Linked DNA regions of Homo sapiens. The protein of the gene in region 1 interacts with the protein of each later gene in a biochemical or structural test. Each region holds a gene or a part of one and is shown in the gene's direction. Other genes may lie near its edges.

Region 1 (6,884 bases):
GCGGGGCTGGCGGGGGGGCGTTCAGTGATGTTCCCTGGTGCTTGCCTGGTCCAAGATGGGGAGACAGAGCCCATGAGAGGCTTCTCTGCCTCCCCCACTCCACACCCTTATTCCCCTGCAGCGCAACCAGGCCTAGGGCGCCAGCCTCACCCCAGTCCCCACCCCACAGGACTGGATCGAGTGGAAGGAAGCCAGATGGGCAGGATCCTGGGGCAACTCCTCGCACGATGCAATGCCACCAGTTCCGGCCAGGTGGCGCTGCGCGGCTACTGTTCCGGGCGGTAGCGTCCGACTCGCGCCTCCAGCAACGGGCGGGGCTAGAGCCGCAGTGGGCGGGGCCACGACGGGTGGGCGGGGTCGCCCCGTCGGCGGCAGCGGTTTCCTGCCTCTCCCCACTCTTGGGTCGTCGCAGTCCCCCGGCCTTCTCTCTCTGTCTGGTCTGTGGGTCTCTGTTGGTCACCTCCTTCTGTCGCGCTGGCTCCGCCTGCTCCAGTTTCAGAATGTAAAGAGAGGCATGGTGCAGCCTGAGGGAAGAGGCCCTAGGCGCGGTCTGGTTATGCTTGAAGGGCCATTAATGTCCATTAGGAAGCCCCGCCTGCCTGAGCAGCTCTGGACCATTACCGGGAGTCGGAATAGTGGCCCCACCCCCAGACAGGGCCCCAGGCCACGGCCACACCCCGGAGCCCCGGTCCAGGTCCAGGCTCGGGCTCCCTGAGATCGCTGGGACCTTGCTGGAGGGATGCGGGTTCAAGGCCCGAAGGAAAGGTCCTGCCAAAACAGGAGTGCACGGGCGGCCCCCACCCCGGTGGACCCCCCACCGACAGCCCAGGGGAACGGCTGAGACCTGCTCTCCCTCTGCTGGATAGGACCCACGCCTGGGTAGCATGCTGGCAGGCGTGGGTTAAGGGGGTTGGGTGGAGAGTTGGGGGATCTCCCAAGCCTCTGATTGCCTCTGCCTTGACTTTCTTCCCTCCTGCTGGGGCCCGGGGAGCCCACGTCACCCACACCCCATCTGCACCCCACAGAACCAGGAAAATAAAGTCCACCCTCCTCTCGATGCTGACCCTACTCCCTCCCGCCCACCTCCCTAGCCCTTTCTTCGAGACACCAAGCACTTTGCGGCCCCTGAACACCTTTGCCCAGGTGCTTCCCTTCGCCTTTCTCTGCCTCCAGCGCAGCACCCATACGGGCCAAGGTCAGCCTCGGACCAGGGCTGAGAGCTTCCGGAGGCTGGCTGGAGAAGAGGCCTGGGAGGGTTTGCCCCCGAGAGCTTCTAGGTCACCCTTCCTCGCCTGTTCCTCCAGGCCCCTGGACTCACTGTCCCCTCTCACTGACTCTGCACCTCCTCTGAAATCGTGACCTCTGGTTCCTCTCTGGCTGCCTCATTCCTCCTGCTCCCTGCTTTGCTAGGCCCACTTCCTTTGTTGCCCGGCCCTTTGCTACTCTGTTACCCTCCTCAGCTCCTTCATGGCTTTGGGGACTCTTTTGTTAACTCTGTAGCAGCAGTGTGTCCGGTGATATTTCCTTGGTTCCTGGCCCTGGTTGTGACCTCATGTCCCTTGTGGCCCCTCCCTCTGCCATGCTGTTCTCCATCCCATCTTTTTTTTTTTATTTGTTTTTAAATTATTTATTTATTGTTTTTGAGATGGTGTCTAGCTCTGTTGCCCAGGCTGGAGTGCAGTGACGCAATCTCAGCTCACTGCAACCTCCGCCTCCTGGGTTCAAGCGATTCTCCTGCCTCAACCTCCCCAGTAGCTGGGATTACAGATGCCCACCACCACGCCTGGCTAATTTTTTTTGTATTTTCAGTAGAGACGGGGTTTCGCCACATTGGCCAGGCTGGTCTCGAACTCCTGACCTCAGGTGATCCACCCACCTCGGCCTCCCAGAGTGTTGGGATTACAGGCGTGAGCCACTGCTCCGGCCCCTCAGCCCATCTTCAGTCACTGGGAGTAGGAATCAGCTGAGTCCTGGGCCAGGGAAGGATGGTGTATGCCCAAGGCTGATCAGGCGTCTGCCCCACCCAGGGCGGGTAAGGTCTGCAAGCCCCCTTACCCAGGGGACCTGGGGCTGCTGGAGTCTCCCATCCAGCCACCTCCCTCGACTCTAGTGTGGCCAGGAAGCTACAGCCTGCCAGGTTTTGGGTGGACCTGGTTGGTGTGGGATGACCCCCTAAGCCCAAACAGGTGTGGTATGTGGGGTGCGTGGTGGTGGGTCACACTGCCCACAGCCATCTTCACAGACTCCAAGGGTGGCAGCACCAGGCTGTGTCCAGGGAGGCCAGCCACAGGCCAGACAGGCAGCCTCTGGACATGCAGACAGAGAGATGGAAGCGGCCGGCCGGGCGGGAGCCTGAAGCAGCCTTACCCAGGAATTGCAGGGGTTGGGGTGGCGAGCAGTCGCGGCGCCTCAGCCTAAGTGGCTTTTAGGGGCAGCTGCCGGGATATGGGCACCCAGGGGGCCATGGCCCAGGAGGCTGCCCAGAGGCGAGCCCTGTGCTTGGGTGGGGGCAGGGGAGCCCAGCCCAGGGCCCCGGAGAGACGAGAGGGAGAGGAGGACTGCGCCAAGCCTGCTTCTACGGCTCACATGGGGAATTGCCTGGGCTGGCTGTGCCTGACCCCTGGGAACCAGGTATGTGCAAGGGGGCCTGGCTGGGCTGGGGAGGAGGGCAGACTGGGGCTGTGCCTGGACTCAGCTACCTTCCTATATTGGAGACAGAGGAAGAGCTGGGTGGTGAAGATAGCATGGACTCCGAATCTCACATCCCTGGGCCCAAATGGAGCTGAGGAGGCTTCGTGGGTCTTTTCCCTCTCCAGGCCTGTTTGCAGGTCTGTGAAGTGGCCGGTCCCCTAGGGTTGTTCCAGGTAAAATGCACTTAGGCCTAAATGATTTCACTGTGGTGGTGACTGTCCTGTTGGGGAAGGAGGGACACTCGTGCTTCAGGTAGAGGCTGAGGGACGTGGACGGCTGTGGGCAGGGGAGGGGAGGCCTGCTGCCTGCCTGTGGACACTGTGGAGCAGCGCCTGTGCACACCCAGAGCTTAGAGCCCAAATAATTCAGTGGAGTGTAGCCCATGTCAGGAGGTGGGTAGCAGGGACCCTCGAGACTCATATCCTTTTGTCACCCTGCAAAGTCACAGTCCAGGCCTGGGGTGGGCTGGGACACAAGTGAGGGGGCCGGCCCGGCCAAGGGAAAGAATGGCAGCAGGGCGTGGGAACCGACGCGGTGCAGATAGGCCGAACACGGTGGGTAGGCCAGGGAGTCTCCCAGCCACTGGCCCCCAGGATGCAGGGAGGGGCTGCTGCGTGTCACTTTTAAAGCCCTTTTTGCCTCCTGGGCCCTCCTGAGACTCTGCCCTGGGCCAGGGAGTCTCCCAGCCACTGGCTGGGAGGGATCCAGGTGAGACACAGCCGAGAGGAGACAGGCAAGGGGGTCCGGAAGGGCTTCCCGGGGAGGGTGGGGAGGGCTGTGGCCCTTGTTCTTACCCTTTGGCCCCTTTGTCGGGGTCCCTTGGCCTGGAGACCCTTTGTCCAACCCGTCGCCCACCTCAAGACCTGCCTCGATGCTGCGCATACAGTAGGTATCCAATAAATGTTCCTGGGATAGAAGGCAAAGGCGCTGGCACCAAGGCGGCTGCCCAGAGTAGGGGCGAGACAGAGAGGTCCCGGTGGTTAAGGGGTCCCCTAGCCCTGCCGCCTCCCCCTGCCCCGCCTCGGGCTGGCCGGGCGCGGAGGTAGGGGCCTGGCCGGGACGGCTGGGACTGGAGGCGGGGGCGGCCGGGCGGCGGGGGCGGGGAAGGGGCGGGCGCGGAGGCGGTGCCGCAGCCCGAGCCGGAGCCCGAGCCGGATCCCGAGGCGACGGGAGCCGAACAGGAGCCGCCGCTGAAGCCACCGCCGGGTGCCCAGCGCCGCCGCCGCCCCCGAGCTCCCCCGCGCCCCTGCCCGCGGGCGGCCGGTGGGCAGCGGGCGCCATGGCCGCGCCGGAGCCGCTGCGGCCGCGCCTGTGCCGCTTGGTGCGCGGAGAGCAGGGCTACGGCTTCCACCTGCACGGCGAGAAGGGCCGCCGCGGGCAGTTCATCCGGCGCGTGGAACCCGGTTCCCCCGCCGAGGCCGCCGCGCTGCGCGCTGGGGACCGCCTGGTCGAGGTCAACGGCGTCAACGTGGAGGGCGAGACGCACCACCAGGTGGGGGCCAGCGCTCGCCCCCGGCCCGCCGCCCCCTCCCCGAGCGCGTCCCCCTGGGGCGAGCAGGGGTCGCACGGGGGCCCGAGGGGGCTCCCGCGGGGAGGACGCGGACGTTGTCGGGAGGCAGCGGCCCGGCGCCTTCGGAGTCCCGGCGCAGGAAGCTCAGTCCTGCACGGGGGTGGGGGGGGGCATCCTGGCAGGGAGGGGCCCGCACTGCGGCTCCTGGCCGCTGGCCTCGCCCTTTGGTCGCGTTTTGGCCTCAGTGTGCCGTGAAGGAGGGTGTTGGGCCGCCTGGAGCCCCTCCGGAAAGGTGAAGACCTGGGTGCTTTTGCCTGGGTGTGTGTGTACACGTGTGCGTGTGAACACAGCTGGGCGTGTGTATGCAGGTCCCTTTGGGGTCAGCCATGTGTGCATGCGCCTGCCTGTGCGTACCCAGGAGGGGTCGCAGTAAAGGCATCAGTGTGTCTGCACCTGTGTGTGCTGTAGTGTGTGTGTGAGTATACAGGTCTGCACGTGTGCCTGTGTGTGTGCAGGTCTGGACTCCTGGGCGTATGGGAGCTGGGCTCTGTGTGTGTGCACGCCTGGCTAGTGTACTCATCACTGTCTGCAGGCCGGTGAGTCTTTGTGTCTGTACTCTAGTGTGTCCCAGCTGGTGTGTCTGGGACCGGGCTGAGTTGGTCATTGCTGGCAACCACATTCCTTAGCTACAAAGGCACTACTCCTCCTCAGAGGCTGCCTAGCCTGGCTGGGGTTACTGGCCGAAGCCTCCTGCCTCCTGGCTAAGGAGAACAGAGCCTTTTCTCTGTGGGTTCTGACCCCTGAGGTGTGTCTGTCTCCCACAGGCCAGGGACTCCCTCCAGACCCTGGTTGGGGTCCAGCGTCCACACACCCCTTTTCCTCCAGGTCCCCTGTCCCTCACAGCACCGATGAATCCATAACCTGTCTACATGGCTGGTCCTGGAACCTAGAGATTAGCAGGTTGGTTCAGCTGGACCTGGAGCTGGTCTCCTGTTTACCTGGTGCCTTGTCTGTCACTCTGTCGGCCGGCCCCATGCCTTCCACCCAGAGTGTCTGCTGTGTAAGGTTGTTTGCTGAAGAATGTGGGGATCAGGCCAGGGGCCTGGACCTGAGGGATTGAGGGTAGGGCTGCCAGGGCTGGGGCCAGGCTGCTGTTGGATAGTCACTGCCACCCTCGCCCTGGGAACACCTGCTTTTCCAAGGCCCTGTGGGGCTGGTCTCTGAGGACTGGACACACAGACCATGGTGGACTCTCCCCACTGCCCCAGGAGGGCAAGAGGGGCAGTTACTGCCCCATTTGACAGTTGAGGAAACTGATGCCAGAGATTGAGGGTAACTTGTCTGGGACACATAGTCAAGAAGCAGCTGGGCACTGGGTTCCTCTTGTCTCACTCTGGGTCATGGGGAGAGAGGAGGGCTGGGGGAAGATGGGCCTGGCTCAGTCCCTCCTATCTGTTCACCACCCCTGCTGAGCCCGGCAGCTGGTGGGGAGCCTTGTCCACCCTCCCCCAGGCCGCAGGTGGGAGTAGGGCTGCCCCTCTTCCTGCCCACTTCCCAGTGGGCACTGCTTTCTCTCCGCGGGTGTGCGCTGGCCCCCCGCGTGGTCCAGACACTTCACAGGCACCTGCACGCACACACCGACGGCCACCAAGCCACAGCTGTCCACAGGTGCACCTGCCTCTCCCCCTCGCCGGCTGCACCTGAATCCTGCTTCCCTGGCTGTGTGTGGGTGCCCGAGCCAGGAGCCCAGCCCTTCCCCTCTCTGCAGATCCAGAGGGAATGGGCCCATGGCCATGGCCTGGAGGTAGATATAAGGCCTAGGGTCAGGAGTTTAGACTCCCACACTGCACGGCAGAGAATGACGGGAATGGGCACAGACACACTCAAACTGGGGCCCAGGGAGACACACCTCTCCTTCAAACCTGGACGGAGACACAGACTTTGAAACAGATGGATGCATGCGCGCACAGGGACAGGCAGACTGAAAACCTGAAGGTCCACTGTGCACCATTTTTGTCACTTCCAGACAGGACTTACCCAGCGGCCCTATCCTGCAGCCCCTTCCCAGCCCCGCCTGGAGAAGACCCTGGGCTAAGGGCAAGGCTCTGGGAGCACCCTGAAGCCCTCACAGCCTGGGCCTCAGTGTCCGGAGCCTGAGTGCAGAGGGAGGGAGCCGCTGGAGTCCGGGGGTGGGGGGCGGGGCCGGCAGGCCTCTTGGTGCAGCCACCCGCCCATGCAGACCAGCCGCCTGTCCGCACGCCTGGGCCAGCCCAGAGTGGTGCCACTGCCCATGTGCTGCCCGGAATGTGGGCCACTGACCCGCTCCTATCGCCCATTCGCCCCAGGTGGTGCAAAGGATCAAGGCTGTGGAGGGGCAGACTCGGCTGCTGGTGGTGGACCAGGAGACAGATGAGGAGCTCCGCCGGCGGCAGCTGACCTGTACCGAGGAGATGGCCCAGCGAGGGCTCCCACCCGCCCACGACCCCTGGGAGCCGAAGCCAGACTGGGCACACACCGGCAGCCACAGCTCCGAAGCTGGCAAGAAGGTATGGCGGGCTTGGCCCACAGGGACCACCCTAGCCTCTCCCAGAGGCTCTCTCAGCTTTTGACGACGATCTTTGCCTTTGGTCACCTCCAGAAGTCTTGGTCTCTTCTGCCTTTTGGGGCTCCTTTTCTGCCCCAG
Region 2 (7,387 bases), on another chromosome or scaffold:
GCCTTCCTTGACCTCCCCGGGTGGGGCTGAGCCATCCTGCTCTCCGCTTCCCACATGCCCACCCGTGCCATGTGTTACAGCCCCTACTACATGTTAGTCATGTTTGTGTACAGGGTTGCATTCTCAGCACAGTGCACCGAACCTAGCACACTCTGCCTATTAGGGTAGATATTATTGAATAATAATACATAAAGGCATGACTTTGGGGTGAGCTGCCCAACTTGAGTCCCAGCTGATATTCATAGAACCGCACCACTTGGCAGTCAGGGGTAACCCAACCTTGGAGAGAAAATCCAACCACTTCTTCATCTATGCAGCATTTGAATGTCATGCACCTGTTTGGGGTCAGACACCACCATACTGGGCACTGGATTCCAAGATGAATTAAACACTGCTTCGACCCACAAGGAACTCAGAGGTCAGTGATTAGAAAGCCCAGGTAAGAGCATCCCTGGCTCCTTATGTGTAGGAGCTGTGGCTCCAGGATGGATACATGTGTGCACTCATCTTTTCTTGGGGGATGTGGTAGCGGACGCTTTGTCTCACCCCTAGATGTTGTGACTGGGGATCAGTATTACTTAGAATGAGGGTCAAGAGGACTTACTGAGTCTGCACATAAGGATGCACTTAGGTAAACAACATCACCAAATTGCACCTGGGGCAGAGAATTATGGCCCCTAACATTGACAGCCAGGGGCCATGGAAAAATGTGTAACCTTGTGCCATGGGTTCCTGCGTAATATCTTCCAGGTGACATTCATATTTGCATTCAAGATCTGTATCTATAGATCTGTATCTGTATCTATATGTATGATGTTGTAACTGAGGGAAAGGCCCAAACTGGGCTTGCTCTGTTGATAACAAAATGTCACGTTGCTCCAGCATAAGCAATAGAAAATAGTTGGAACTCTAACAACAACCCCAAAACAATGAATTCTCCCTTGGAACTAAAAAGACTAAGAGACTTGATGGGAATCCGAATGCCAGAACTCTCTCAGAAGCCAGACGTACAATGGCTTGGAAGATGTGGGGCTAAAAGTCCGCCTCAACATACCTTTCTGTAAATGGTCAAATTTAAAGCCCTCCAATCAGATTCTGCCAAGCCAACATTCCTAAATCTTTTCATTGCCTTCTGATCCCATAAATTTACCCCAGGCCTCAAACTGGGGAGACATTTTTTCTTTTTTTTTTTTTTGAGATGGAGTCTTGCTCTGTTGCCCAGGCTGCAGTGCAGTGGTGCAATCTCAGCTCACTGCAGCCTACACCTCCCAGGTTCAAGCAATTCTCCTGCCTCAGCCTCCTGAGTAGCTAGGATTACAGACGCATGCCACCAAGCCTGGCTAATTTTTGTATTTTTAGTAGAGATGGGGTTTCACCATGTTGGCCAGGCTGGTCTCAAACTCCTGACTTCAGGTGATCTGCCCACCTCAGCCTCCCAAAGTTGTGGGATTACAGGCATGAGTCACCGTGCCTGGCTGGGGAGACAGATTTGAATTCACTCCTGTCTCTTTGCTGACCAGTTTTGCAAATAAAGCCGCTGCTTTTTCCAAAGCTAGTGCTTCATAGTATTGGCTTCTGTGCCCATGGGGCAGCAAAACCATTTGCTTGATAAAAATGCGGTGGCTCTCGCCAGTAATCCCAGCACTTTGGGAGGCCGAGGCGGGCAGATCACCTGAGGTCGGGAGTTCGAGACCAGCCTGACCAACATGGAGAAACCCCGTCTCTACTAAAAATACAAAATTAGCCGGGTGTGGTGGCAGATGCCTGTAATCCTAGCTACTTAGGAGGCTGAGGCAGGAGAATTGCTTGAACCTGGGAGGCGGAGGCAGCCTGGGCAACAGGAGCAAGACTCTGTCTCAAAAAAAAAAAAAAAAAAAAAAAAGTGATGTGCTGTTCTTGGTGGTCTGAGTAAGTAAAGGATGAATAAGAAAGACGCCATGTTAAAGAAGCTGAATGTCTGCTAGGAGAGCTAACGCATGTATACAAATAACCAAAATGCAACAAATCCCAGAAGGAATGATCCTGCAGAAACTTCCTGATGAAAAGCTTCAAAAACAGCACCCATAAAGTGCTTTGGGTTTCAAATATAAGCTCAGGTGTTCTGGGCTGGCGAGCTTGCTAGTTAGAGCACAATGCTAAATGGGGCCAAAGGCACAGGCCAGTTACCTGGGGGTAGCTCATCTCAGTGGCCACCAGTGACCTCAAAACCCAGCCAGCCTCATTCCAGAAAGCCACGTTGTGCATAAGTTGAGGGGGGCTGTTGGATACTGGGGAGAGTCCAGCACAATTGTAACTTTTCTATGTCTTCTCTAAGCCCAGATGTCTGCTCTCATTTTAATTTTGCATGATCTTGTAATGGCACCAATCCCAAATCATGTGAATTTAAAATGCCCTAAGCTTCAAAATATACGCTCTCTCTTTATAAAGTTAACATGATTGCTTCTGAGTTTTTAGATAAATTGAATGATTGAGTGCAAAAACACTGTTTAAATCAGAGTGCGATACACATTTTTTAAAATCCCAGTGTAAAAAAAAATATATATATATATTGCTTGGTTTCAGAAGAGAAACAAGCCTTTTGTTGACATGATATCAGGGGAACAGTACTAAAAAAACATCAAAGATAGTCACACACACAAATATCCCAGAGTATTCATAGGGAACACCCTCTGTCTTTCCCATATGCGGTGTGGAAAACGGGGCCAGAACGATCCTGCAGAAACTTCCTGATGAAAACAACCCCGTCAGCCCTTCCCAAGCTTGAGGCCGGCTGCCACGGAACCCCAGCCAGGGCTCCAGCGCTTCCTTCGCGGCTCCAGGGACGCAGTGCCCTGCAGGCATCGCCTGCTTGCAGCCGACTTGAGGGGCTCACGGAGTCCCCTGTGCCCGGGACGCGGCTAGATCCTGGAGAAAACCCCTCCACCCAGCCCCATCTGGCAGATAGACTCCAGATTAGCAACCCCGGAGTCACGTGAGCCAAATTTACGCCGTACCCGGGTTCCAAGGTTAATCACCCCTCGCCCCCTCCGCTTCCCGGCTCCGCCGATGTGCCTCCTCTTCAGGCGGGCCTGGGGTCTGCGTCTCCCAGGCAGCTTTGGGGGTGGAAAAAAGGAGGGGAGCGGGGGAGGGGAAAGGAACTTCTTTGTTCTTTCACCGGATAAACTCAGTTTACGGAATTCTCCAACACCCACTCCCACCCCCAGTGTGCAAATATCTCTGATCCTCACTTGGAGGGCGAACTACTTCATTCATTGAGACTTTTGTGTTCCTGGCCCTAGGCTAAGTATTATCTTGTAAGATCACATTTAAGTTTCCCAACAACCCCCTGAGGTAGGTGTTATTATCCCTATTTTACAGATAAAAAGAAATGAGGTACTGAGAATAGCTTGCCTAGGGTTTTACAATTAATAGATTGGCACAGTTAGGTTTTGAGCCCCAGCCTGTTTTGACCCAAAAGCCCTAATCTTTATAGCTGTTCTTTATATAGCAGGAATAAGAGTAATAACCACTCCTTGCAGAGCAATTACTATATTCCAGGCACGGTGCACGGTATTTCTCCAAACTTCTCTCAGAGGCAGGTTTGCCACTTACCCGTTATGTGGCCTCAGGAAGTTTCTTAACCTCTTTTTGACTCAATTGCCCTGTCTGCAAAATGAGGCTAAAAATATGGTTGTCATGAAGAGTAAAAGAATTAATATATGTAAAGCCTGGCACACATTCATCCCTGAAATTGTTGTTGCTGTTGTTTTTTAACCATCATCTCCATTTCACAGGTAAGGAACCTACCCTTGGAGAGGTGAAGGAGTGAATTAGTCCAGCTTGCCCGCTGCACACCTAGCTGCAGAGAGACCCCGCTCAGAAGCCGTGCGGGATGGGGGCCCCACAGGCAGGTGAATTGCACTTGGCAGGTGGGAGATGAGCTTCTCCGGGGTCGCTGCAGAACGCGCAGCAGCCCGGGAGGCCGTGAATGGTTATCAGTTACCACGCAAGGCTGGGGGTCCGCCCGCTCCGGATTTGCTCGTAGTGCGAGGGCCCCGGCGGTGTGCTGGGGGATCCCGCCGGGCCCACTTAGAAGCACTCGGGGGGACACACCTGTTCGGGACACCTGTGGACGGGGCCCGGCTGCACCGCAGGAGCCCCCCGCCCTGGCCCCCGCGCACACACAGCCCCCCAAGGCGCGGAGGCCGCCGGCCCTCCCGCCCGTCGCGCTCCAGGGCGGAGTTTCCTCCTCTGCTCATTGTTCACGGCCCAGCGCCCGCCCAGCCCCGGCCCCGGCCCCGCCCGGCCCGGCCGCCGCCGCTGGCGGGCTCCTGGGGGAGGGGGAGGGGCGGGGGCGGGGGCGGGGGCCGGCGCTGACGGGACGGGCCAGGAGTAGCCGCAGCCGCCAGTGGGGCCGCAGCCGCGCAGACGCCGCCCAGGACGCAGCCGCCGCCGCCGCCGCTCCTCTGCCACTGGCTCTGCGCCCCAGCCCGGCTCTGCTGCAGCGGCAGGGAGGAAGAGCCGCCGCAGCGCGACTCGGGAGCCCCGGGCCACAGCCTGGCCTCCGGAGCCACCCACAGGCCTCCCCGGGCGGCGCCCACGCTCCTACCGCCCGGACGCGCGGATCCTCCGCCGGCACCGCAGCCACCTGCTCCCGGCCCAGAGGCGACGACACGATGCGCTGCGCGCTGGCGCTCTCGGCGCTGCTGCTACTGTTGTCAACGCCGCCGCTGCTGCCGTCGTCGCCGTCGCCGTCGCCGTCGCCCTCCCAGAATGGTGAGTGGCCGGCCTGGGTTCCGCCGGGACTCCCACCGTGCCCATGTGCCCCCTGCCCGGCCGAGCTGCAGGGAAGCCCGGCGCGCCGCGTGGTCCGACCCCGAGCAGCCCTATCACCGCCGGGGTCACACACGGAGCCCTGACCTTGCACCATCCACGCCCCCTCCAAACTCCGCAGCGCGGCAGGTGCAGGGCCTGGGCGTAGATTCGTCTCCACTCTCCACTCGGGAGGAGTGGGCGGTGGATTCTGCCCGGGCAAACAGGGGCGCGCCGGTGCTAAGTGGGTTTGCATGGGAAAGAAAAGGGAGACCGCACCGCGAGGCTCCACGCTTCTGCGGGACTCTCGGGATCTGATTACACCTTTCCTTCGTGTTGGAGGGAATGAGGGGCTGTAGTGTGTATTCGTTAATTCCAGGCAAAGAGGCAGGCGAGAGGCTCCCGAGGAAGTCCCTGAAGCAGGTGACAAGCCTCCAGCCACGGCCCACGCGGGCGATGTACTTACCCGTTTGCAGAGGTTTTTTCTAAGTAATGTGTGCAGGCTCAACTCCTTGAGCCCGTGCTGGGGCAGGTACAGAGTCGTAAGTGGACCTTCCACAGTCCCAGAGTCACCTGGCTGAGTGGGGGTCCTACCTCCGTGTCCCTAAAACAATCGCTTCTTAGTGCGTGGCTACGATGGTGAGACCCCCCTCGAATCCTCTTGTTCAAACGGGAACTTGTTCAAACGGGAACTTCTCTCTCGTAGAATAGGATTGGGCTGCATTTTAGACACACCTTAGAAAATGTACCTGTCTCTCATGAAACACCTGCACCTCAGAAACATCCCCTCCCTGTTTCTTTTCAAGGTGAAATGTTACTCTTTCCCTTTTGGGGGACAGGCGATGGCTGCAAACTCAACCAGAACAGGTGTTCTTAAGCCCCTAGGGAACAGCCAGAGTCAGCTCAGCCCCACGGGAGAGGTGCATTTCTCATTCTCTTTTGCCCACCTGAGCACATGTCTGCAGGAAGAGCTGAGGTGGTGTGATCACCCTAGGGCCAGGAGGACTGCGGGGACAGCACAGACAGGGTAGGGATTCTGCTGTGAGCAGGTGCCGGCAGTTTGGGACTGGACTCTAAGGGGCCAGGGGAGATGGAAGGGCAGTACAGTCTCTCCTCTGCACCGCAGGAAACCTTTGGTAGTGGGCAGGCGCTGGCACTCAGGGAGCAGGCAGGCGTGGGCATCCTCCTGTGGCCGGCGGGAGACTCCACCAGCCTGACTAGAAAGGGAAGGTCCCGGCGGGGGGAAGAATGTGTGTCCCTGGAAGAGGGGCTGCAGTGTGAGGAACAGTCAGAACAGCTTTCAGAGTGGCAATCACTGAAGAGCCACACGACATGCAGGGTTGAGATGACACGAGAGTATGGTGGCTCCTTAGCCCTACTCTGGGGACAGCTGGACTTCAGGGTGGGCCTTCATACGAACCTTTTGTTGGGAAGCCTCTTAGAACCACCCAGAAGGGCGTTGGGCTGTGTCAGGAAAGAGGGGTTAGTCCCTAGTGCTTCTGAGCTTAAGGAAGCTGAGCCACCCTTCCTTTGAGGAGTGGGAGGCACTGTGGGACAAGACCCTCCCTGTCTGCCCTAAAAGGAAATGTTCATAAGTCACCAGTGGGCAAAGCTCTGACTCCAGCTCACTGCTGGCTTCAAGGATGGCACTGTTTTTCCTGGCACCTGGGCACTGCCAGAAACCATGTCTCTTCCATGAAGCACCACTTCTGGCCTAACACAGGGTTTGGCACATGGCAGAAGTTTGGTATGTGGCAAACAAAAATGACCATAACCCAGTGCCTGCTCTAACCAGCAAGTAACTTGGCCTATCTGAGCACTGTATGCATTATAGTATGCAGCACTGTTGGGAAGCACTTAGAAAAGTGCAAAGTGCTAAGTGGGGGATGGGGAGAGGATGATGATCATGATGGTGATGATGATTTGCATGTATTGAGGCCAGAAAAGGCTTGTGGGGGGCATGTTGCGGCAAGATTGGTCTGTTCAGTAGCTATGGTGCATTCTACACCACCCTCTAGGGACTCAGTAAGGCCAGCTCCATCCCTGTCCTTCTGAAGGTGTGGTCGCCTGGGCTGCTGTCATCGGGAATAGCATAAACACTGCCCCCCATCTGCTGGAATCCTGTGATTTGATTCAAAGCAAGAAAGATTTATAGCTCGAGTCTCTGCAACAAAGGAATTATCCCCAGACAGGTCCATCCCTGCCCCTCTCCCCCAGCTTACCTTCCAATATATGGGCAGATTATGCAGCCTACAGCAAAGAAAGCATTCACCTTAAGGGTTGGACAATTCATCAGACCCCCTTTCAGTGCTTTTTGGTTTGATAACCATCTGGCAGAACCACAATGGTAAGTCACATCTCCGTGCCTCCGTTTCGTTATTTGTGAGATAGAATAAAAGAACCAAAGGGACCTCTAGTTCCACCATGATAAGATATCTGGGGTTCCGTGTTCCCTCAGCTACTGAAAGGACAAGCTGATTCAGTACTCTCAATCTGATGTTCAATGGATGAATTCTGGGCAACAGAAAGGCAGCTTGGTGGGGTGGAAACACTCAGACTTTGGGTCAGAGAGATGTGCATGACCATGGACAAAATA
Region 3 (7,023 bases), on another chromosome or scaffold:
GGCTCCCCCTTGCTCTCACATGCTTTGCTATTTTAACAGGGTCAAAGTCTGTGGTGTAAAAATGCCTGTTAACATACCCTTAGGTATTTAAAGATCATAACTAGTAAACTACACTTGGTTTACTTTTGTGGGGCGTTTTAACACCCTTTTGGCATGCTAAAATTCTTATAAAGATAGCAACCATTAATTAAATCAACAGACCAAGAGTAAAACATTAGTATAAGCTCTACCAGTTAATTTGCTGATTTTTTTTTAAGAGATAGGATCTCCCTCTGTCACCCAGGCTGGAGTGCAATGGTGCCATCCTAGCTCACTATAACCTCAAACTCCTGGGCTCAGGCAATCCCTCTGCCCCAGCCTCCTGAGTAGCTATGACTACAGCTGCACACCACCATCCTCAGCTATTTTTTTTTATTTTTTGTAGAAGCAGATTCTCACTATGTTGCCCAGGCTAGTCTTGAACTCCTGGCCTCAAGTGATCCTCCCACCTCAGCCTCCCAAAGTGCTGACATTACAGGTGTGAGCCTTCACGCCCAGTCTAATTTGCTGATTTTAATGAACAGCAGCTGGTTCTATTAGGTTGGTGCAAAAGTAATTGCAGTTTTTGCAATTATAATTATCACTGTGACAGATAATTCCATTTCCTAAATGAGTTGGAGATGGGATTAGAAATAAATACACTTTCTTTGAATCCTCTTATATTTGTGTGTGTTTTTGTGGCCCAGAACCTGAGCCAGCAGAAATGACCTCTTGGGAAAAGTGTCTTCTGTGCACTTTGCTCCCTGGCCCAAGATGACAACTTTCAACTTCCACCACGTCTGGCAAATTTTTAAATTTTTTTTATAGGGACAAGGTCTCACTGTCGCTACAAAAAAAAAAAAAAAAAGTCTTTTTAAAAGACCCCGTCTCGACATTGTACTTTAATCAAAGTAAATTGTAGTGTATGTGTTGCTTTCTTTTCACAGTTAATTTGGATCATGACCTTCATCTTCACCATTGTCCTGGGACTCGGGTTAGGCCTGGCAGCTAGTGTGGCATTTCAACTGCTAACCATCGTGTTCAGGACCCAATTGTGAGTGCTCAAAGTGCTCTGCATCCTGGCAGGCTTGGACCTGCCCAAATCAGAAGAGGAAAAAAAATGTCACTGGCTAAAAGAACAGTAGTTGGTTGATAGGTGTGCATTTCTATCAGGATGGGGCAGTTTATCCTCCCTCCAGTTGCTCATCTCAAGGCCTGAAGGGCAATAGCACGGCCCAGCTTTAGAACATCAGCCCAGGGAGGAGACTTGCTGTTGGTCTGCTTCTGGCTTTGACTCCAGTTCAAATAAATCATATAAATCTCTGAGTCTATTCGCCCAGCTATAAACCAGAAGTAATTCTATTCCAAGCAGGTTTAATGTCTTTGCCTTGTACTTGTTAAACATGGAAATGTGTTACTGAGATTGTGAGATTGTTTCCATCTAGTGGATGGATTTCCTCTTTATAGGTTGTTAGATTGCCCTCGTACCTTTAAAATATGGAGCTGGATTAGAGAACTTCTCAAAGGCCCCTCTTACCTTAAAATTCCACAAAAGCCATTTGGAATTCTTGATTTTTAATAATCATTCAGTCCAAGCATCTTTTTAATTTTTATTTATTTATTTATTTATTGTCTTTTGAGACAGAGTTTCGCTCTTGTCGCCCAGGCCGGAGTGCAACGGTGTAATCTCGGCTCACTGCAACCTCTGCCTCCTGGGTTCAAGCGATTCTTCTACCTCAGCCTCCCAAGTAGCTGGGACTATAGGTGCCTGCCACTGGCTAATTTTTGTATTTTTACTAGAGACAGGGTTTCACCGTGTTGGCCAGGCTGGTTCGTGAATTCCTGACTTTGGGTGATCCGCCCGACTTAGCCTGCCAAAGTGCTGGGATTACAGTCATGAGCCATGGCGACCAGCCTTGATTTTTTAAAATCTCTGCCATGTAACATCACTACCATGTGGTTGCTCAGCCTATTTTGAATTACATGGTGTGACAGAAAAAGATGCTTCCTGGGGAACTAAGGAGTTCTACAACAGAAATTGTTATCACAAAGTCAATCCCTGACTGATGGAATACATCCATATTGAAATACTCCCGAACTCTTTCATTTATTTATATTTCATTCCATTTTTTACTGGGAACCCATCAAACATAGAGACAAACTGAATGGTCATAAGCAAGTCATTTTACTTTTCCATGTTCTCATCCATACAACTGGGTAATCATATCCACCTTACCTCATGGAATAACTGTGATATTCACAATCAAAATGGCAAAAGCATATGGAGTGCTTTGTAAACTGTAACATGACAAATGGGAGGCACTTTTCAGGTGCTGTGAGAGGACACAAAGATAAGTAAAACAAGGTGTTCACCTTCCAGAGTCTCTGATGGCATGATGATTCCCCAACCTTTTACATTTTGAAAAGTGAGCCTGCTTTGGTATGCTGGAAAAAGTCAGTGTTAGCCTTATAGGCTTAACAAACATACATGAATGATTTACTTGGTGTTTTTCTCCCTACAGTCCAAAATGCAGCACGCTGGCTAATATTGGAAGAACCAACATCTATAAGAATAAAAAAGATTATTATGATGTAAGGGAGATTCATGTTTTTCTTTGACTTGCTAAATGATATTAACTATGGATCTAATGGGCAACACCTAACAATGCTTCTCTGCCTTACAGATGTATGAGCCAGAAGGAGTGAAAATTTTCAGATGTCCATCTCCTATCTACTTTGCAAACATTGGTTTCTTTAGGCGGAAACTTATCGATGCTGTAAGGTTTGGGGTTATTTAATTTTTTTCCTTGTAATCTTACTGAATTCTGGGAATGTCATTGTTCTGTAAGGTCATTGTTGAGACTGGGTTGTGTCACATATGTTGAGGTGGGGTTGTGTCAGTATTTTTTGTCCCACGTCCCAGAACAGATGAAACTACCTTATGGGGAGTTTGTTAATAGGTTGGGAAATAAGCCTCTTCAGATGACATCTAATATAGAAGAATCCTTTTCTCAAATTCTGATGTAGAGTAAAAGAAATTTACCAAGTTTTGGGCTGCTAGCTTTTAGTAGATGTCATCCTACAGATTTTCTTTGGGCATCAACTTCAGAAACAATGAAGGAGCATTTAATATTTGACCACATCCTCAAAGAGATTCAGTATAACAGTTGTAAATGAATAGTTAATACTGAATAACAATACATACTGAGTGTCCCTGGCAAACTGGAGAGATGATGACAAGGAAGCAGTCTTGACAGTTAAGAAAAAAAGCTCAGTCCTCCCTCTTGAAACATGCCTTTGGTCTACTCTGTACCTTGCATACAGCCTCTGCCTTAAACCTTAACTATTATTATTAGTTTGATATGCATCCGACATTTTTCTACCGAGTTTTTTGTTGTTGTTTGCAAAATGAGATTATATTGTATATTTGGTTTTCTGTACTGCCCTTTTCGATTACTCTAGTAAACTTCCATCTAACTATATTTTTTGTCAAGGATTTTTTTTTTTGAGACAAGGTCTCGCTTTGTCACCCAGGCTGGCATGATCACAGCTCACTGCAACCTCAAACTCCTGGGTTTGAGCAATCCCCCTACCTCAGCCCCCCAAGTAGATGAGACTCCAGGCATGTGCCACTACACCCCGCTAAGTGCTAAGTTTTAAATCTTTTGTAGAGACGAGGGCTTGCTTTGTTGCCCAGGCTGGCCTTGAACTCGTGGCCTCACGCAATCCTCCCACCTCGGCCTCCCAAAGTGCTAGGATTAGAGGCTTCAGCCACCACGCCTGGCCAAGGATTTTTTATTACATAATTTGATCCTCCTCTCTTACTTATCTGTAACTAAATATTACAGCAATAAGAATTCATTAGTGTTGAAAAAAACAAAGATTAGCCTCAAATATAATACTAAAATTATAAAATAAAATTGTACAATAATAAATAACATACCATTATAAATTTTAATAAGATAAAAATTACATACAAGCAGAATACTTATGTAGGTGCAACTCGTACTCAATAAATAGAAAATAAGTAAAATAAAATTCCCTAAGAGTTGTGTAGGTTCCAAACACAAACAGATTCAAATAGAGTTTATGTCCATTCATGGATAATTTATGGATGAATCCTGGACTGTGTTATACAAAAGCTTTTGACTGTTGATAACTGCATACAGGTGGAGCAGACCATGGGTCTGACCCAATGTTCTGGCTGATATTGTTTAAACCACTTTTAAATTTTGTCACAAATATTTTTATTATCTGTCCCAATCCCTCAAATCACTCCAGTTAAAGTTGTTAGAACTATGCTATATAAATAACAGAATATTCAGTACTCTTGTAACACAGCAATGGGTTTCTCAGGTTGGCTTTAGTCCACTTCGAATTCTACGCAAGCGCAACAAAGCTTTGAGGAAAATCCGAAAACTGCAGAAGCAAGGCTTGCTACAAGTGACACCAGTAAGTTCCTTGACCACATTTCTATGCATTATAGCTAAAAGCTTAGTAAAGGATGATTCAAGGTGTAGTTCCATTCCTTTAAATGAAATGCCAGATAAACAAGGGATTTCATGTGTCAATGAGTGTTATATTTTAAAATGACATCCTTCTGAGGGTCTCCCTAAAATTTTTATTCTCCTGGGAAAAGTACCAAACACAATTGTCCACAATCTTGTTGTTGTTTGAGACAGTGTCTTGCTCTGTGGCCTAGGCTGGAGCGCAGTGGTGCGATCACAGCTCATTGCAGCCTTGACCTCCCAGACTCAAGCGACCCTCCCACCTCAGCCTCCCAAGTAGCTGAAACTACAAGCACATGTGCCACCATGCCTGGCTAACTTTTTTATTTTTTGCAGAGATGGAGTCTTACCATGTTGCCCTGGCTGGTCTCAAACTCCTGGGCTCAAGTGATCCTCCCACCTCAGTTTCCTAAAGTGCTGGGATGACAGGCATGAGCCACCACACCTAGTCCAATCCCATCGTTTGGCTCAACTCAGAATCAGTGCTTCTGAAACTCACTGGCTATCTCTGACATACACAATGTTTTTCTTGGTCACAGTTTTCATACTTGTTATCCTCTCCTGCAGAAAGGATTTATATGTACTGTTGACACCATAAAAGATTCTGACGAAGAGCTGGACAACAATCAGATAGAAGTACTGGACCAGCCAATCAATACCACAGACCTGCCTTTCCACATTGACTGGAATGATGATCTTCCTCTCAACATTGAGGTCCCCAAAATCAGCCTCCACAGCCTCATTCTTGACTTTTCAGCAGTGTCCTTTCTTGATGTTTCTTCAGTGAGGGGCCTTAAATCGGTAATTTCTTTGTTCTTAATGGAAACAACCAATCAATGACTAAAGGTTAAAAAAAAAATTGTATTTGTGGGCTGGGCACAGTGGCTCATGCCTGTAATCCCAGCACTTTGGGAGGCCGAGGTGGGTGGATCACCTGAGGTCAGGACTTCGAGACCAGCCTGGCCAACATGGCGAAGCCCCGTCTCTACTAAAAATACAAAAATCAGCTGGGTGTGGTGGCGTGCACCTGTAATCCCAGCTACTCGGGAGGCTGAGGCAGGAGAATAGCTTGAACCTGGGAGGTGGCAATTGCAGTGAGCCGAAATTGCACCACTGCACTCCAGCAATACAGTGAGACTCTGTCTCAAAAACAGCAACAAAAAAAACTGTATTTGTGGAAGGATGCTCCTTTAGGTAACATGCATTTAATTAGAAGCAAATGATAATCTTAGAGTATTCCATGGAGGGAAAGGTGGTGTTCAGTGGACTCTTGAAAGGGCATTTTTCCATGAGACTGGGTACTATATTGAAGGGAATCAAATCTACAGTTCTAACGTATGCTGAATCTGCTGGTGGACAACTATGCTCACATTCCTTTCAAATTTCAATTCTGTGGTGTTCTCAAATCTTTGTGGGCATTGTGTCTAAATTATTCTGAAATCAGAGAAGATCTGGAAAGGTCCTGGGAAAAAATGTAAGAGTGGATCCTTTTGTTTTATCCTCATCCATTATAAGCTGATGAAATTTCACTTGGCTAAAACCCAAATAGATATATGAAAGAATAAATGTCACATGTGATTTCAAAACACGACTGAAACAATCAGATTGCAGTGTGTTTTCTTTCCACAGATTAATCATATTTCTAAAATAAATTAGTTTCTAACAGAAATGCAGAAACATATAAAAAGAAAATTTAAGAAATTCTACATCTTTCTCTCTTTTTCTTGGGTTTTCACAAAAAATCTGCCCAAGTGAGAGCTGACCTAAGATAAGACCTATTCAGCATGGGTGAACTGGATACAAAATTAGAAAATGGAAGAATTTTTTTTAAATGTTAACATCATGTAACTCTCAAGTCTACTTGCGTTTTCTTTTCTTTTTTGGTTTTGGTTTTTGTTTATTTTAGCTTTTGATTACTTTAGCTTTTGTTTCTGCATTTTCACTCACACACACACACACATTTATTTTTTGGTTCTAGCAGTATAACACAAAGGACAGGGGCTCTAATTCTTAGTTAAGTGCCTAGAAGAGGTTCTGAAAGTGTTTACTGATGATGGCAATGACATTAATGATCATCTAACCTGATCAAACAATATAAGCTACTTTTCTTACTTTACATGATCTTACTCATATCACTACTGGTATTTGTTCTTAGCCTAGAGACCAGAAAAATGTATAAACATTCATTGGTGCTAGATACATCCATTCATTGTGGACAAAAATAATTAGCAACTCATGGTCCATAGGTTCTTTTTTAAAACTTTTATGTAGCAAGAAAGCTCTAGTTGAGATCATCCCAAAGAAGACACTATTTTAAAATTAAATCAGAGTTGTTCTTATGAGTTTGAGACAGAACATTTTCCCATAATACTTCCTTCAAGAATGATCATTTTTAACTTCTTACTGAGGAGAAGGGTTCTTTTGTTTGGGTTTATTTCTGTCACAGAGCCTTGTTTTTAACTTTAGTATCTTCTGACACTATTATCTCTTTTCAAAA
Region 4 (7,661 bases), on another chromosome or scaffold:
TTCTTTCAGAGGCACCTGGCCCCTCTGTTGTGTGAATGGGAATGTGCTGCCTTCCTCTAAATCAGACAAGCACCTGGAAAGGCTTTTTGTTTATCTGAATGACTCCTGTTGGAATATTAGTCATGAATAGGATAATATGTTTCAAATGTTCCAAACTTCTTTAAGAGAAAGAGAAAACCGTCTGTTGACTCTGGTCTTCACTCAGGTCCAGCGGCGGGATGCTCCAGGTCCAGTCTGAGGAGTAAATGCTGGGCGTGTAACCTCATCAGTGTTGGGAACCTGGTGAGGCTACACAGCACAGAGGGGCCGGACTGCATCAGGGAAAGAGGAGTTGGGCTGTCTTCTCATTGTCACACACAATCCCACCATGGAGGACTCAGGCTGTCTCATGGCTACAGAGGTAGTGAAGCAGTTGCCAGGCGCCACAGCAGGAACGGAATTTCTCCGTGAAGACAGTGGTAAGGCGGAAGGACTGAGAGTGCATCCCGCTGGGGTACTGGAAGGTGTAGGATTCCATCAGGGCAAACGCTATCATTTGTGCTTTAAGACTAGGATTTGTGGAACAGGGAGAATGCATCCCCTGCCCTCCCTGTTGCTTAGCAACAGTCCTCTTTCTCATTCCCAGCAGGTCCAAAAGGGCCCAGTTTTGAAGATTGGGGGCAAGGAGTGGGGGATGAAGGTAAGATAACTCCCTGGTCTGCATAATAATGAGACATTCTGGCTCCATTGTGCAAAAGGTACCTGCCTTGCAAATGAATGAAGTAGTTAAAAAACACTTCTCCCTGTTTGGGGTTTATTCTGTGAGGATGAATGCTTACCTGGGGGAGACACATGTTTCTCTGTATGTGTTTGTATTTCCACAGCTGTCTGCTGGATCACAAGAGTCAAAGACACGCCTTCAGCCCACACAGGTGGGGAGGCTCAGAATGCCTGCCCCCTAGGGCCTCCACGCTGGACATTGGGTCAGGGAAGCCCCCTTTCCTGAGTTGTTCTGTGGGACTCCAAAGGGCCTCCTGCCAAGCTCTCTGACAGTTCACATCCCATCTGAAGAGCCTCATGCACCAGTCCAGGGCCTCTGAGAAGCAGATGCCAAGAGGGGATTAAAAATGCCAAGATTTTGTTGGAGGAGATGCCCAGGTGAGGAAAGTCAGAGGGAGGCTGTCTGAGGAGTTTTCAGACCAGGACTCAGGGCAGACCCTGAGGGGAGGAGGGAGAGCAGGTTGGGAGGATGCATCCTAGACTGCCATGGAGTCTAAGGAAGATTCCACGGCCGTGCAAGAGTGCTCCAGCCAAAGGCACCCTTGGAGGAGCCCACCTCTCCCGGGGACTGCCTCCCTTCATGTCCTCCTGTGCTCAGTCCCTTCAGAGTGCAGCCCCTTTGGCCTTGGACACTTCCTCTCCCTGCGTTTCGTTGGGCTGCAGGGCGTGTTCTCCTGGCCTCCACACCCAGGCCTGCTCAGGGGTAGGGTTGGGTGAACCTGAGGCTTGGGAATATCCCACTGGGGGGATTGGGAGGCCTGCAAAGGTAGGTAGAGGGCCACGCAGTGAGGGGTGCAGAAGGGAGGGCCTGTGGACAGAGGGGGTGAACCCAAGGACGGCAAGCAGCAGCAGGGACAGGCGTGACCACAGGAGGCCACCTGTGAAGGGAGAAGGCCAGATTTAGCAGGAGCGTGGACTCCCCGCCTGTTGCTCTTTCCCCCACCATGTTGTAGCTCCTTAGTGTGGGTCTCCTCCCACCTCACTTCGCATGGGAACCCTTCTGCAAGTGGCTTCACTTACACCTGTGTCTTGTTCTGTCTGGGCTGCTGTAACAAAATATCTGAGGCTGGGTAATTTATAAACCACAGAGAGTTATGGAGGCTGGAAGTCCAAGACCAAGGCACAGGCAGGTTTGATGTCTGCTGAGGCCTTGACCACTGCATCACATGGTGGAAGGCAGACGGGCAGAAAGAGGACAAACACTGTGTCCTCACAGCAGAAGAGAATGAACCTCCTCCCTCGAGCCCTTTGATAAGGGCCCTAACCCCATCTGGAAGGGCTCTACCTGATGACTTAATCACCTCCTAAAGGCCCTGCCTCTTAAAACTATCTCATGGGGATTATGTTTCAATATATAAATTTTGTGAGACACATTCAGACCATAGCAACCTACTATGTTCTTTTTCCTTATCTGTAATGACTGGTTATGCTTATAAATGTTTGAAAGCAAAAGTGCCTTTTCCGTGAAATTTTGCATCTGTTTCCATTTTATCCCTTCTCTGAGCATCATGGAGACTCAGCTGTCCTGCCCCGGGGACTGGTGTCAGGAACCTGGTGTATGGTCTCCAAGCTACGCTGCTGCTCTGATGCTTCTCATCTCTTTGACTCTTGAGCTGAGGTTGATCCCTCCTACAATCTTGTGTGGTGTTGAGTGGAGGAGGGGACAGGCAGTGAAGGGGCATGTGGCCAGCCCACAGTCACCCACTCTTGCTTCTTGCGAACCCAATCAATGCTTCAAGTGATTACCAGCTGTGAAGTGTGAGGAACAGTGGGAAGAGAGCAACTCAGGAGGGGTGTGGGGTAAGGACTCCTCTCCCTCAGTCTCCTAGTGGGAGATGGCCCTAGGGGGTGGGCTGAGGAGGAAGACAGAAGGCTGACACTCGGAGTAGGTTGGATTTCAACCCTGTTCATTCAATGACAAGTGTATTACATATGCTATCTCTTGAGCTTCCCACTGTAGACTTCTGAGGTGAGAAGCTAGGTAACTTGCAGTTGGTAGAGCAGGGTCTCAACCCCACCACTGAAGTGCAAAGTCTGTGATGTAAAGTTCTGCATTGCCCCGGGACCAGGGTGGCTGGTGAATGGCCAAGAGAAAGTCAGGTCAGCCTGACCTTCTAGGGCAGGAGTCCCCACACCTGGTCTGTGGCCTGCTAGGAACCAGGCTGCACAGAAGGAGGTGAGTGGTAGGTGAGCAAAGCTTCATTTGTATTTTGACCACTCCCTATGGCTCACATTACTGCCTGAGCTCCGCTTCCTGTCAGATCAGCAGCGGCATTACATTCTCACAGGATCCTGAACCCTTTTGTGAACTGCGCATTCGAGGGATCTAGGCTGTGCGCTCCTTATGAGAATCTAACGCCTGATGATCTGTCACTGTCTCCCATCACCCCCAGATGGGACTGTCTAGTTGCAAGAAAACAAGCTCAGGGCTCCCACTGATTCGACATTATGGTGGTGTTGTATAATTATTTCATTATATATTAGAATATAATACATAATATATATTATATGATATATTAGAATATAATACGTAATATATGTTATATAATATTTAGAATATAATATGTAATATATGTTATATAATATTTAGAATATAATACGTAATATATGTTATATAATATATTAGAATATAATACGTAATATATGTTATATAATATATTAGAATATAATACGTAATATATGTTATATAATATATTAGAATATAATACGTAATATATGTTATATAATATATTAGAATATAATACGTAATATATATTATATAACATATTAGAATATAATACGTAATATATGTTATATAATATATTAGAATATAATACATAATATATATTATATTATATATTAGAATATAATACAGAATATATATTATATATTAGAATATAATACATAATATATATTATATATTAGAATATAATACAGAATATATATTATATATTAGAATATAATACAGAATATATGTTATATAATATATTAGAATATAATACAGAATATATGTTATATAATATATTAGAATATAATACAGAATATATGTTATAGAGTATATTAGAATATAATACATAATATATGTTATATAATATATTAGAATATAATACATAATATATATTATATTATATATTAGAATATAATACATAATGAAATAAGGAATATAATAGAATATTATTTCATAGAATAGAATAGAATATTATTTCCTTCTATAATAGAATAGAATATTTCATTATTTCATCCCATATTCATTATTTCATTCTATAATATTATAGAATAGAATAGAATATTATATAATGTAATAGAATATTATTTCATTATATATTAGAATATAATATATAATGAAATAAGGAATATAATAGAATATAATAGAAGTAAAGTAATTATTATAAGTAAACACAGTAGAAACAAAGTTCACAATAAATGTCATGTGTTTGAATCATCTCGAAACCATCCTCCCCCACCACCTCCCTGGTCCATGGAAAAAATGTCTCCCATGAAACTGGTCCCTGGTGCCAAAAAGGTTGGGGACTGCTGTTCTAGGGCCACTGAGTGATTCACAGGACAGGAGACATTTGTGAGGGGCTCCTTGGGGACCCCTACTTCCCTGCCCTGTAACATCCAGCCTCATGTGCGCACGTGTTCAACTTCATGCCTTTGACTTAGACACATCGACATGAGCATACCGGCCTTCTGGTTCCAAGCCAGGGTTCCATAAACAAATCCTTCTTAGTTAGCCTTGGTAGCTCAACACCTTTGGTATCTCACTCACTTAACTGCCACGCCTACTCTTGTTGGATCCGGTTATAAAGTAAACTATGTTCTTTGAGAACTGTTGCATACAGATGAGTTGGCAGCCGGTCTGAGCTGGCCCACAGACTCATAAAATCAACAGGGCCTCGGGTACCCTCACCTAGCATATCCAAACTCTTGCATCAAAGGTGCAGGGACTTGCTCACATCGAGAATCTGGTTGCTTTCTTGGAGACCAAGAAAATGAGTTTTTGTTTCTACATTTACTCCAGCAATCCATGAGGTAAGAGGAGAAACACCTCATTGTCTCTTTGTAGGAAAAAGAAGTTAATTCTTGTGAAAATTTAGACCTCTTTTCCCCGCCTCAAATCTAGGCAGACTTGTCTGTCCACTCCTGGGGGATAGATAGAAGCATGGTTTTAACTCACTCACTGGATGCTTTTGGTGTGCTGGTTACATGTGGATTATTAGCTGTGTGCTGCATCTTGCCTTCCCTGGGTCACTCCGCAGCCCTGGGGCTGGAGGGCAGTAAGAATCTTTGGTTGCATCATGCCTGATTCCAAAGTCTTCTTTTGGTGGCAGAGATGTATGTAGGGTTTTCATCTCTGGTGGCATCCTTTCAATTGTAGCAAGACCTTGCCTAGTAACACAACCTCTGCCAAGCCGTTTCCATCTTTAAGGTAGAGGATCAAGGTGCTAGTGGGGTCTATTATGGAAAACATATATCAGGAAAAGGCAAGAGTTAGCCAGACATTTTGATTACCTTCACCCAAATGTCTTTCTTTCATTTTCTGATGTAGGACTTTATAGGAATTTTGCACCATTCTGAATGGATACATTTGGATTTCTCAACATTTGTTCAGCTTCCTAATGACTGTTGTGACAATTGCTCTATACCAGTGAATGCCAACTGTTTATCTCTGCTCTGAACAGGTATGGAGCCCCTTCTCCCAATATCTGTATCTTACAGATTTGGTGCATAGACGCTTAAAAGGAGTTGGTCTTTCGCAACCAGCAATCTTTAGGAAAAATGATTGAATTTTTCTCCTTTTAGCTGGGCTTACAAAATGGAGCAAAACATAGTGATTGTGCTATGGACCTTTTATGGACAGGGACTTGGCAGAGCCACTCACTGGATGCTTTTGATCTGCTGGTTGTACCTGGATTATTAGTTGCGAGCTGCACGCTGCCTTCCCTGGGCCATTCCGTAGCCCTGGGGCTGGAGGGCAGTTAGAATCTTTGGTTGAATCTTCGGTTACATTGGAGGAGCTGCCCAGTCTTTGTGGGCTCCCTTCAGTCATGGGCTTGGCTTGTGTTGTCTTACTCTACACTGTTTAGTGTAAATGGATTCTCACTAAGTCAGCTTCAGCTTTTAAGAGCATGATGGGGTGGAGATATCTGGGAACGTATGGGCCATCAGAAAAGCATTTTTTTATACTCAAGTCATGAAGGTGGATTTCTTCTGTGTAAGGAGGTGCACCAAGTCAGTGTAGGTGCAAGACTGCCCTTGTAAAGAAGCAGAGTATGTGAATTCCTTGTGAGTGGGTCTTAATCTTTAATGCTTTAATGACTTTTGGTTTGCCTGATTTTTTTTAATATAAGAAGTTTGTAATTGCCAAGCATGCTTTTCTGTGAAGAGCTAAGTCTCAAAATTCCCCATTCACGTTCTTTTCCTTTCCTCAGTAATGTGTTTTTCTGTGCTAGGTTATGAGTCTACCCTGCACCTTGTCACAGCTCAGTGATTGTCCAGGGATTCAGCTGTGACTCACATGCTTTGCCTTTTACTTGCTCCAGGGTTTCCATGCATTGAAGGCTTCCTGGTGCCCTCTCAGTGGAATTGCTTCTGGCCTGGCAGTTTGATCCTGAGGGTGACCCAAATGTTTCTCCCCTTGGCTCCATAATTTAAGATGCCAGTGATGACTATTGTCTTTCTTCTCTTCATTCTTGTCTTTCTCATGACTATTATTATTATACATACAGGTTTTTTTCTTCATTTGCCTTTCAACAAGCTTGTAATTAGAACTCATTGTGTTTTGGATGCTAGGTCCTGGGAAACCACTGAATGGCTTGGGAAATGCTTTGCTCTAGAGGGCAGGTACTTGGGCTAGGGGCTATGTGCATGGAAACAGGCTCTCACACGCTAATGGGAGAGATACCTGATGAGTGGGGACTGTGACACAGAAATGTAGCTCATAGTATCATCGCTGCCTGCACAGAAAAGTACATCATACTTTTCCTACAGAGGACCTCATGGAAGCATGATCCTAAATGCGCTGGGTGGGCAGGAAGGGGCCTACTGGAGGCAGGGGGAAGAACATTCTAGAACAAGGAAATGGCATTTACAAAAATATGCAAGAATGAGAGAGAGCATGACTTACACAGGGAATACCAGGCTGGTGTGGCTGAGGGTGGGTGGCCAGGGGAGGGGTGAGGGAAGCTGCAGGGTGCCACGATGAAGGACCTAGTATGTGATGCTGAGGAACTTGGGCAGTGTCCGGAAGGTGGTGAGAACCGGGGTAAGATCTTATTTACATTGTGGAAGAGTTGCTCTGCCTGCACAGTGCAAGGTGGACTAGAGTAGGGTAAGACCACGGCCGGGTAATCAGGGAGGAGATTACCAAGAGGGAGAAGACACAAAGTCTGGTGGCCAATCAGCTGCAGAGAGTGATGGGGACAGGCGAGGATGAAGTGGAGCTCTGAAACAGGAGCCAGAGACTCCCAAAGTCCGCAAAAAGAGCACACTTTGAATGGCACAGACCCTTTTCCTTCCACTCACCCTCCCACATTCAAGACTGTGATGACCTAGGCTCAAGCCAAAAGTATACAGAAAAGGGCCTAGGCTTTCCCAATCTGCTCTTTCTCCTGAAATATATATGGTTCAGGAATAGTATTAGTACTGCTGTGAAATAGCAAAAAGTGGTTGGCTCGATTATGTGGTTCAGAAATCATCATGAACAAGCAGGGTGTGCAGAAATTGGAAAAAGAAAACAACAAAAACAAACATCTTCAAAAAATGCTGAAGAAAAAAATTAGTGTAGAGACATATAAAAGATAGACCCCTAGAAAAGTCAACAATAGGCCTGGTGCAGTGGCTTACACCTGTAATCCCAGCACTTTTGGTGGCTGAGGCTCATCTGAGGTCAAGATTTCAAGACCAGCCTGGCCAACATG

The links.
Region 2: the proteins of NHERF2 (region 1) and PODXL form a complex in vitro, tested with the Homo sapiens proteins (3 studies listed by BioGRID and IntAct, with this or other methods).
Region 3: the proteins of NHERF2 (region 1) and SLC26A3 form a complex in vitro, tested with the Homo sapiens proteins (2 studies listed by BioGRID and IntAct, with this or other methods).
Region 4: the proteins of NHERF2 (region 1) and KCNJ1 form a complex in vitro, tested with the Homo sapiens proteins (2 studies listed by BioGRID and IntAct, with this or other methods).

Annotation. Positions count from the first base shown.
Region 1 is NC_000016.10:2,023,036-2,029,919, forward strand, and holds the start of NHERF2 (Na(+)/H(+) exchange regulatory cofactor NHE-RF2), read left to right. Parts: upstream 1-3,866; 5' UTR 3,867-3,970; coding exon 3,971-4,183; intron 4,184-5,140; exon of another isoform or gene 5,141-5,161; intron 5,162-6,546; coding exon 6,547-6,747; intron 6,748-6,884.
Region 2 is NC_000007.14:131,553,628-131,561,014, reverse strand, and holds the start of PODXL (podocalyxin isoform 1 precursor), read left to right. Parts: upstream 1-4,386; 5' UTR 4,387-4,655; coding exon 4,656-4,755; intron 4,756-7,387. UniProt on the Homo sapiens protein: Involved in the regulation of both adhesion and cell morphology and cancer progression. Functions as an anti-adhesive molecule that maintains an open filtration pathway between neighboring foot processes in the podocyte by charge repulsion.
Region 3 is NC_000007.14:107,772,224-107,779,246, reverse strand, and holds part of SLC26A3 (chloride anion exchanger), read left to right. Parts: intron 1-965; coding exon 966-1,072; intron 1,073-2,540; coding exon 2,541-2,610; intron 2,611-2,702; coding exon 2,703-2,795; intron 2,796-4,374; coding exon 4,375-4,470; intron 4,471-5,093; coding exon 5,094-5,327; intron 5,328-7,023. UniProt on the Homo sapiens protein: Mediates chloride-bicarbonate exchange with a chloride bicarbonate stoichiometry of 2:1 in the intestinal epithelia. Plays a role in the chloride and bicarbonate homeostasis during sperm epididymal maturation and capacitation.
Region 4 is NC_000011.10:128,864,285-128,871,945, reverse strand, and holds the start of KCNJ1 (ATP-sensitive inward rectifier potassium channel 1), read left to right. Parts: upstream 1-4,649; 5' UTR 4,650-4,773; exon of another isoform or gene 4,774-5,196; intron 5,197-5,290; exon of another isoform or gene 5,291-5,393; coding exon of another isoform or gene 5,394-5,423; intron 5,424-7,661. UniProt on the Homo sapiens protein: Inward rectifier potassium channels are characterized by a greater tendency to allow potassium to flow into the cell rather than out of it.